2 separate regions of the Homo sapiens genome follow, and region 1 is linked to region 2. The links come from fine-mapping of genetic effects on gene expression. A gene starts in region 2. The other region holds a variant in brackets. All regions are shown on one strand. Distances are between the middles of the regions.

Region 1 (5,378 bases), 180 kb before region 2:
AGAATTATTTATTTCTTTTTTCTTCATTGAGCGTTTCCAAATTTCCATAAGGAACATATTTGTATTGTGGTCAGAAACAAAATTTGACGATTTTTTAAAAAGAAGGTATGGCAAACCAAGTAATGTATGATCAATGTCTTGCGGCAATTCAAGACCCAGACAATTGGAAGGCTGTATAAATTAAGCTACAAAACCCAGAGAACTAGAGGTGGTCTGCAAAGAATAGAGACGACCAGACTGGCTGACGGTCAAATCATAAATTTGCATGTGTTCCAAAAACGTGTTCCACCGGCAATCCTCCAAATTGTGTCAGGTGCTTAAAATACCACAGTGCATAATAGGTGATCCCTATTCAAGGGTTCAAATCCTGACCGAGGAACGCATCCACATTTCCACAGAAGCACTGTCATTCCACCCTGTGGCAGGCAGAGAAGCTTTCCTGTCAGCTCCTATGGAATCCACTTTAATAAGCCTTGCACTATGGAATGTGAAATCATAGAAAGCTTAAAGAATGCTGAGACATGGTGCTTGGCCTCACCCCAGACTCTTAAGAGGGAAGCCTTACAGTCAAACAATGAGTAATAATAAACCTCCAAGTTCCAGTAAAATTCCTGATAAGATCTTTAAGCAGGAAGGCCATGACCAGCTAAAGTGTCTTTATGGGTTCCTCTAAACACAGTCGTGAAATTTTCAAAGCTTCCACCCTCAGGAATCAGACTCAAAAGAAATAAATTGTGTGTGTGTGTGTTACATATAAATCTTCTCCATTATTGAAAGCTTTTGGCATGATTTCTTTAGTATCCAGTGCTAATTTTTACAGTAAATAGACAGCCTGACAGATTCTTACCTAAGGGGTTAAGGCAGGTGCCAAGGGCACTGGCCAAGTGATCCAGACCAGGGTTGGGTCACAGGGGCCAGATCTGAATTTACAGGGCAGTCATGGGGGACTCGGAGGCAGGAGGAACTGGGTGCATGGAGGCCATTTGGGGCTTGCCTCTCCAGCATCCAGCATCCCTCTTTTTCCAACAATAGCTGTCTCTCCATCTCTCCTGATTGTCATTCCATATGGCTTAAGTGGAGTTGATTCTGCCCTTGCTCCAATACCAGCCAATCAGAGCAGCCCATTCCCCTGGCAGTAATGTTTGCTTCTGCCGTGGGTACATGACCCAAATCAGAGCGAATTAAACTCCGTTCTAGACTCTTATTTGGGCAGAGAATCTCAATCTTTCCTGACAGATTTGAATCTAAAAGCACATGGGCTGGCATTTCTGCTGCCACCTTCCCACGCCCATGCCTCGAGAATGAGGCCAACTCTTGGAGAAGGCTGTGGGAGGAGCTGAGGGGTCTTGGGTTCTGGCAACTCCAGCTGAACCTGCACCTGAACCCGGCAGTACCTCTGAACCTTTCTGCACATCAACCAATAAAGTTTCCTTCTTGCTGTTAAGAGGGAATGAAGATTGAGGGAGAAGCTAGGAAAGAAAGAAGACTTGGCCTCCCAGGCTGAGTGTGAGAGGACGCTATGGAGATGTGCCATACTAGACAAGTTTCTTTCCAGTGGGAAAGAGAGAGATGGGGCCACTGGAGGGTAGAGGGAAAGAAAAAAACAGGCTCTGCTCTCCCAGGATCAGAGACTCCTACCAGAGTCCAGGCTAAAGCCTCCAAAGCCCAGGACCACATGTCTCTCCCTGACCCATGTTTCTGACCCATCCCCTGCTGTCCACCAATGCTGAGCATGTCTCAGTCCTCTACCATGCTTAGCCTCTGCAAGACAGGGTCTCCTGGTATTGACTGTCTCCAGGAGAGCAGGTGGGAAGCTGAGCCCCAATGTGGGTGGGGAAAGGAGAGGGGGAATTCCAATTCCCTGGTCCCTGTGGACCCTCCAACCCCAGCCCACCCACTTTGGGTTTGATGTCACCTGCAAAGCACCATTGTTCCTCCTGGGAAAGGACTTCTTTTGGAAAATCCTGGGGCCTTCACGACAGCCCCACCGCTCATCCTATAATTTCAGCTTTCCCTCCACCTGGCACAGACAGACCAGATGCACACCTCAGGGACCAAGCGACCCCTTCTTGTCCTGAGTGTAGTTTCCTTTTTGTTGACAAGACCAGCTCCTCTGTTACCCACAGGGCCCAGTCACTCCCTTTAGGGTCTGACAGGCATGGTAAGGAAGTTATGAAAACTTTGAAAAAGCAAAAGGCAAAGGCCCCACCAATTCAATTTCATAGAATAAAATTGATAGGTTCCATATTCAGTATATTCCCTTAATCATCCCCATATCAGTATCATTCATATGCAATTGTTTATTTTTCTGTTAAAAATCAGCATTCTCATCTGGCAACTTTGTTGACCATGTTTTCTGGATTTCAGTGCACTTGGACTCTTCGGTCTGAAAAAATTGCTAACCTCTGTTTTAACCCAATCTCCAGTGCAGTAAAACAATGTTTAAAAAGCACATTCAGAATAATTTGTTATTATTATATAATAAGTCATACTTGAAAACAAAACTCACCTGAATGCTAATGCCTCACTATTTCTTTAGACAGCAGGAATATTTCCCAACACTTAGAAAGCAAACAACAGGCCAGGTGCAGTGGCTCACACCTGTAATCTCAGCATTTTGGGAGGCCGAAGTGGGCGGATCACATGAGGCCAGGAGCTCAAGACCAGCCTGGCCAACATGGCGAAACCCCGTCTCTACTAAAAATACAAAAATTATCCAGGTGTAGTGGTGCACGTCTGTAATCCCAGCTACTCGGGAGGCTGAGGCACAAGAATCATTTGAACCTGGGAAGTGGAAGTTGCAGTGAGCCAAGATCACGCCACTGCACTCCAGCCTGGGCAACAGAAGGAGACTCAAAAAAGAAAGGAGGAAGGGAGGGAGGGAGGAAGGGAGGAAGGGGAAGGAAGGAAAAGAAGGGAAGGAAGGGAAAGAAAGAAGGAAAGAAAAAGAAGGAGGGAAGGAAGGAAGGAAGGAGGGAGAGAGGGAGGGAGGGAAGGAAGGAAGGGAGGAAGGAAAAAAAAGAGAAAAGAGAGAAAGAGAAAGAGA[AAG/A]AGAGAAAGAAAAGTGAAAGAAAGAAGAAAGCAAGAAAGAAGAAGGAAGGAAGGAAGGAAAGAAAAGAAAAGAAAAAGAAAGAAAGAAAGAAAGAAAGAAAGAAAGAAAGAAAGAAAAAGAAAGAGAAAGAAAGAAAGAAAGAAAGAAAGAAAGAAAGAAAGAAAGAAAGAAAGAAAGAAAGAAAGGAAAGAAAAAGAAGGAAAGCAAGCAAGGAAGCAAGTAGCCAAAGCCCTGGGAACCCATCGAGGAATGGCCCCGGAGGCAGAGTTACCCTCAGGTAAGAGCACAAGCTTTGGAGGTAGCCAGCCTGGTTTTGCACCCTAGTACTGCCGCTTATTAGACGTGCCATACTGGGCAAGTTATTTAACCTTTTCATGCATCAGCTTCTCATCTATAAACGATAGTGCCTATGTGGGAATGCAGTGGTGGTTGAAGAAAGGAGAAAAGGGCCCAGGACATCAGAAATGGGTAGGACTAGAGCTAGGGGAGCGGTACAGCTTGGAGGCTCTGGAAGTGAGTCCTGGAGTCAGGGCTTTGAGACATGAGAGGAGGCTATGGCAGAGGCACATGTTCTCTGTGCAAATCCAAGGAGCCCACCAGGAAGACCCCGAATTCCCATTACTGGCGTATCCACCGACTCTTGCATGTCCTGACCTCCTTGGAGGCTGCCTCTCGCTCTCATTTTCTTTTCTGCTCAGACACCTACAGCTGTGTTGGTAGCTGCCCTTCTAATGGCTTGGGGGTGGGGGAGCACAGCCAGGGGGCACGTAGCTGGGATGAGGGTGAAGAGGAGTGCTATGGAGAAGGGGTCTCAAGTACTAAATTGAAGCCGGGAAGGCTCAAAGGCAAATATGGATTCTCTACAGCTCTGATGGAAAGCCTTGCTCCAATCTGAATTCTGGTCTTCCAAGAAAAATCACAAGCAATGACAGGCTCTTTAATATGGGTTCCAGCCACAGGCCAGAGATCAAACGTCGCTGAACCAGTGTGAGGAAAAGAATGGCAGGCAGACGTCTTCTTTTTCCGCACACAGACTGTAATCAGCTCTCCACAAGGTCATCCCAGAACACCAAGGACAGTCCAGATACCTCCAGGCTCTCCTCAGTAATGGACGGAAGCAGTGGTGCAGATAATCTGCCCAAATGGCGGGTAATCCAAAAGCCATTTCTATCTGGCCTTGGGAGAAGCTTCTGTGCTCGTTCTGAGTGTGGGTGTGTGTGAGCCTCCCTGCCAGGTCCATGTGCACAGTGAGGCTGCTCTCAGGGAAGGTGTCCTCCTGCTGGCAGCAGGGGCCATGGGTACTGGCAGGGAGTTGGCGATGGAGAGGACAGTTCAGGAAGAAAAGGGTGCAGGTGGGCTCCATTTGGCCTCCTTCCTTGGTCCATTCTCATCTTCCTGGGCCCTGCGGATGCATGGCCTGGGCTGCTTTGCCCTCTGGCTTTCAAGCTGGTTTGAGCTATAAGAGATGGAGCAGAGAAAGGAGAGGAAGGCCAGCATCTTTCTTCCCTGCTTCCTTCAGGCTCTGGCATCCGGTGCAGTCTTGCTCGTCATCTCCGCTTCCCTCTGCTTCTTCCCAGGCTCCAGTTCTCCCTGGATTCCAGGAACACCATCTCCTTCCTCGTCCCTTCCATCCCAGGGAAGGTAAGAGAACTTACATTCGATAGAGAAAACACTGTTTTTTTAACCAAAGCTATGTGGGAGTGGGGACTGGGAGTGTATGTAGAAAGGCAGGGAGTTGATTATGCTTAAGTCCTTGTCTATCTAATTTACCGTGCCTAGAAGTAAAAAGATAATGTAAGAACAGACACATCAAAAAATAGCTGCCCAGAACTGAAAACAAGGACTTGAATAGATGTTTGTACACCTATGTTCATAGCAGCATCATTCACAGTAGCCACAGGCAGAAGAAAACTAAATGTCCATCGACAGATGAAGAGAAACAAAATGTTACATATAAAAACAATAGAATATTATTCAATCTTAAAAAGGAATGAAATTCTGTACAACGTGGATGAAACTCGAGGACATTATGCTAAGTGAAATAACCCAGTCTCAAAAGGACAAATATCATACGATTCCACTTACATGAGATACCTAAAATAGGCAAATTTATAGCGACAAAAAGTAGAGTAGTGGTTACCAGGCCCTGGGGACAAAGGGGAATGGTGAGTTATTGGTTAATGGGGACTGAGTTTCTGTTTATGAAGATGAAAGCATTCTGGAGATGGATAGTGGTGATGATTGCATGACATTGTAGATGTACTTAATGTTAGTGAATTGGACACTTAAAATAGTTAAAGTGGTTAAAAAATAGCTGTGTAAGAATACT
Region 2 (5,378 bases):
CAAACTGCTGGACTCAAGCAATCCTCCTGCCTCAGCCTCCCAAAGTGATGGGATTATAGGTGTGAACCACTGCACCTGGCCCACTATCCCGTTAAACAAACAAACAAACTTTAATTGAGAGGCCATTAGGCTGAGGCAATGACAGAGCTCTAGAAGGTCCCACATAAGCAAACTAAAGTCCAATGTAAACAGTAAAACCATACTAGACTTTATCAATCAGAAACTGCCAACTATTCCCTAACTCGGAACTTTCCACTCTAACCAATTTAAATGTCTTTTGTCTTACTTTCATGTTCAGCCTATAAAAGCTCACTGCCCTTGCTGCTAGAATGGGGCTCACTAACCTCCAATGGTTCTGAGTGCTGCGTAATTCATGAGTCATTCTTTGCTCAAACAAACTCCTTGTTTTTTTTGTTTTTTTTCTGAGACAAGGTCTCTCACTCACATCGCCCAGGCTGGAATGCAGGGGCATCATCACAGCTCACTGCAGCCTCAACTTCCCAGGTTCAGGTGATTCTCTCACCTCAGCCTCCCAAGTAGCTGGGACGACAGGCATGCAGCACCATGCCCGGCTACTTCTTTGTAGAGACGGCATTTTGCCATGTTGCCCAGGCTGGTCTTGAACTCCTGGGCTCAAATGATCTGTCCACCTTGGTCTCCCAAAGTGCTGGGATTCCAGATGTGAGCCACTGTGCCTGCTCCAACTCTTTAATATTTTAATATCCCTAGGTTTATCTCTTAATGATCCTAATTCTTTCCCCCATCTTAGACCCCAAAGTGTGTGGCCCCAGGCCTGGATCATATTTAGTTGCTCAGTTATTTCTTATAGTCAGGAAAATCAGAATTTCCTTGTGCTTTTGATTTCAGTAGCTCAGCCAGCTTCACCAGCAAGCACATCCACATATCTGGATTCTCAGACCACTGGGCACTGAAACAGAGCAGTTAATCCCCATACCCATGCTGAGGAAATAACACGCATCACATCTTTTAAAATATCATATACACAATGGATCATTTGAGTAAATTTAATACTAGGATCATTTGAGTAATTTTAATACTGCTCTATAGACAATTCAGTGGTACCCTAAACACAATTAATTTCTACATAGATATTATTAACTTTTCAGCTAGTATTAGTAAAATTAATAAAATTAGGTACGTGATTTAATTATTTTATCTGAATAATGTTTTGTTTTTTGTTTTAGACACTATTATTAGAACACTAGGCTGTGACATGTCATTAAATAACAATTAAAAAATCAACACATACAGCAAATTATTTTTTGTAGTGGTTACTCACCTGAGCGCTCTTACCACATTTAGCATCTCCTGAAACAATCACGATTTGATTTTGAAGCAGGTTCTCCATAAAGGAGTATTTTTCTTTCCATATAGGAAGATCTTCTCTTTCTTTCAGAAGTTTATAATAACGTGATGAATATGGCAATCCATCAAAGGGGTTAAGTTCCAAATCCTCACAGGCCAAAACCTCTTCCTCATCCCCATCGCTGGAATCCAGGGATTCAGGAAAATAGCGTTTTTCAGAGGAAGAGTTTGGACACTCCAGCCCTTCTTCTTCCATCTTGTCTGACAGTGAGCTCACGCAGCTGACATTCCACAAGCAAGTTTCTCCTATCAGTAACCCATTGCAAACAGGGCTTAAAAGCCTATTTATACAAACCCGTATGTTCCAATCTCTAAGACTTCAGTTCAAGGTTTTAGCAAGTTAAATTCCTCAAACCTGCATCTGTTCTCCGTTGCTGTGTTACCCACTGTGCTGGCTCACTACAGCACTCTTCGGCATTGTAAATGATTGTCAATAAACCACACTAAGAAACAAACAAACAAAAAGAGTAAGGAAAATTAGGAACACATATAAGTTAAAAAGAAAATGCACAGGAGTTCAAATGAAAAGCATTATTTTTTTTTTTTCTGTTAACGGGTTTCTGTCATTTCTGCTGCCTGCTTAAAAGAACAGGAATAATTTAGGCTGGTGTTTAAAGTTTGGTGGGTTCCGGTATTTCCTGGCTGGTTCAGAAAATGATTCTGCACTGGGCCTCGTGCTCTCTGCCTGACCTCTATCTCAGGCTCTGCGTCTTGATCAACTGTGAATGGAAAGCAACAGGAGGGACAGGATTGTGATTGTGAGGCTAATCAATCACGTGGTCACCTAATCCCATGTCAAAAGAGGAGCTGGACCCTATAAAAGGAAAGAACTGTGATGACCTGGTGAGTGTTCCTCTAACACAGGCTACAGGAAAATCTATTATTAAGAAATCCTTTACTTTAATGAAAAACATTTTTAAAACTTTTCATTTTCCTTTTGCTTATGTCAGTTTAGAAAGCCAAGTGAGGGGAATGAATTTATTATTTCCTTCCATATGTAGTTATGGTTGGCTTTTATTTTATATATATATAAAAAAGACAGGGTCTCGCTCTGTCACCCAGGCTGGATGCAGTGGCGTGATCATGGCTCACTGCAGCCTCAACCTCCCAGGCTGTTTTCCCCCTGCCTCAGCCTCCTGAGTAGCTGGGACTACAGGTGTACACCACTATGTCCAGCTAATTTCTGTATTTTTTTGTAGAGACGGAGTTTTGCCTTGTTGCCCAGGCTAGTTTCGAACTCCTGGGCTCAAGTGGTCTGTCCTCCTTGGCCTCCCAAAGTGCTGGGATTTCAAATGTGAGCCACCATGCCCAGCTGGCTGGCTTTTATTAATAAGGTCTTTTGTTTAATTAAACCAGAAATCTCTAGCATATTTCTTGAGATTCCTGGGTCTTGAGCCCAACATGTCAGCTCCAAGAGGCCATTAAGGACAACTTTTAATTTAAATGAAGAAGAGAAATCACCCAAGAAAGAGCAAGATTTATACCAATAACTCAGTCCCCACATGTCAGGTGAAGGGTCTTTCCCCTTCCAATTACTAGTGATTAAAAAGAAAAATTCCATTAGTGTTGCTGGAAATAAGCTCCTTTTCACATTAACCAGATAAAAATGAAAAAGAAAACTCAAGTTAAAAAGAATAATAAAATACAGTTCATGATATTTTGTAAGTTACTGCACTTTTCGGATCACCTGGTTTACCTTAATTATTGCTTTAGATGGTTGGAGCCAGTGTGCTCAACAGCTAGTTCCTAATTAGTAAGTGATAAGAAAAGCTCTCTCTCTATTGGTCAAGACAGGCTCCAGGGCAACAGTCAATCACTCAAAAAACATTTGCTGAGTGTCTTCTAAGGGCTTATTAGATGAGTAAACTAGGCACTAGATACACACATAAAGGATATTTTGAAGATGGCAGCAAGAGCAGGATAGAAAGTTTTAAAATTCACAGATGAACAAGCTAGTTTAGAGGTAAGTAACCAGAGAGGCAGAAGAACTTCATAGCTCTTCCCAAGTAAAGTTCTTAAAAATTCATCTAAAAGCCAGTGTTTCAAAATTAAAATGGAATTACAAAGGCATAATAGAAATGTTGTAATATGGATTCACTTCAGAACTCTTCACTGCCTCTATAAGGTGAGAGTAGACCCACAGAATAGCTCCAGGAAGCATGGTAGCTTGAGATCATCGCACAAGCTAATTCTGGGAAGGTATCCAAGAATCAGAAAATTCCACTCTTCAGAGAAGTTAAAATTTAATTTTATATTCTATTTTTCTTTTGTTCTGATTAGAATCCCTTCCAAGGGTTCTCAGCCTACATGTAAATTAAATTGCTATTAAATATTATAACCAATGATTGCCTTAGGTAGTATTTCTTAACTGTTTTACCTTAAAAAAAGAACAGCTATTATTTTTACCAAAAAGAAATGTTTCTCTTATTTATAATACTCCCTAAGAGTGTAATAATCTTATAATTACAGTAAATTCTTACTTATAAAGCACTGACCACTTTGAACCCTGAGGAAATAATCAAGTTTTCTGAATAGTCTTCTTTCTAAAGACCTGAGACTTACCTGGCCCCTTCATCACACATTGTGCAATGTATCCACACACATTAGCCTTAACCACTTCTCTGTTATAGTGGAATTAAAGATGGCCACAGATTATTTGCCACTGTTCCAAATGGAGAGGTAGAGTCTATTTCCTCTCCCCTTGAATCTGAGCTGGCCCTGTGACCAGTGTCACTATGACTAAAATAATGCAGTTAAGTGATACTGAATCACTTCCAAGATATTCCCATGCTTGAAACACTCCTCTTTAGAACCAGCTGTCATTCTATGAGGTACCCACGCCCAAGCCACCGGGAAGAGACCAAAGCTGAACTTCCAGTCCACAGCAGCATAAACCTTCAACCATGTGAACAAGCTGCCTAAGATGCCCCAGCCCAGTCGAGCCTCCAGATGACTGCAACCCCAGCCAACTGAGCAGAAGCAGCATCCACAGGAGCCCATACAACCCAAAGTATCATGAGACAACAAATGGTCACTGTTTTTGTAAGCTACTAAGTTGCAGGGTGGTTTGACTTGCAGAAACAGATAACCAGACTTCTGCCTTCTTAAATAAACTATACTCACAATTTAACTTTTTCATTGTGACTCAAGGTCACCATTACATCAGTTGCCAAAACAGAATGATGTCCTCAGATGTCTCCGAAATCTACAGAAGCCAAAGACCAGACTGCTCTCCTGGAGCCCTGCTCTTCCCTGGGGACTCAGAACCCATGCCACTGTGTGGTGTGGCCTCTTACCTTGTGAGGCTCTTCTCTGCCTTTCTAACCTGCTCTCCTAACCGGTGCATTAGAAGCCAGACAAGCTTGTTTGACAGACACATTTGTAAAGCTTGAGTCCACAAAGGATGCTACCATTGAATCCAATGAGTCTGAGGCGCAAAACTATGACATTTATAGACTCTGGAACATCTATTTCGACTACTCAGAAGGACCTTTTGCTGCTATATGGTTTGGATTCCAAATTTGGAGGGTGGAGTGGCTGAGACCTAACTAGAGGAGTTGGGCCCATTGACTCCAATAACATTCATATACCTCTCCTTATTCATCTTGCAACTGGTGTAAGCCATGTAAATGTTTTTTCCTAGAGGTAATTAAATATGTACCAAAGATCTATGTCTTGGCCTTTGGCAAATTTAACAGTACCAGTCTAAAGAAAGAGAAACAAATAATATGGTAGGTTAGATGTCATTCAAAATAAAGTTTCATAACTGTTCTGTTGTAAGTATAAACTACATTCCACTATAAGAAATTTAAATCTGAAAGATTGACATTTGCTCTTTCAAAGCTATCATACATGTATATTGTAGATGGCACACTTTGTCAAGGACAGCTATTTGAAATCAATCTATTACAGCTCTTAAACATGCATCCATGAAAATAATACATATCTAATTAACAGACAACCTTAACAAGGTAGAATTAGAAGTCAATGTA

Evidence for each region. PIP is the estimated chance that this variant, and not a neighbour inherited with it, causes the effect. A credible set is the group of variants that fine-mapping cannot tell apart.
Region 1: its variant is the best candidate, but not a certain one, in a credible set for the expression of DHX32 in whole blood (INTERVAL, PIP 0.63).

The regions. Positions count from the first base shown.
Region 1 is chr10:125,694,498-125,699,875 of GRCh38, forward strand. LOC283038 (a long non-coding RNA gene) reads left to right here. Exons shown (of 5, transcript NR_033848.1): 3 at 4,627-4,690. Among named protein-coding and RNA genes, the nearest start is that of TEX36, 14 kb to the left of the region's middle. The variant AAG/A (reference allele first, on the strand shown) is at 3,047.
Region 2 is chr10:125,879,243-125,884,620 of GRCh38, forward strand. It overlaps DHX32 (DEAH-box helicase 32 (putative)), which reads right to left and starts at 2,050. Exons shown (of 11, transcript NM_018180.3): 1 at 1,301-2,050. The coding sequence starts at 1,582. RefSeq lists an enhancer at 1,640-2,362.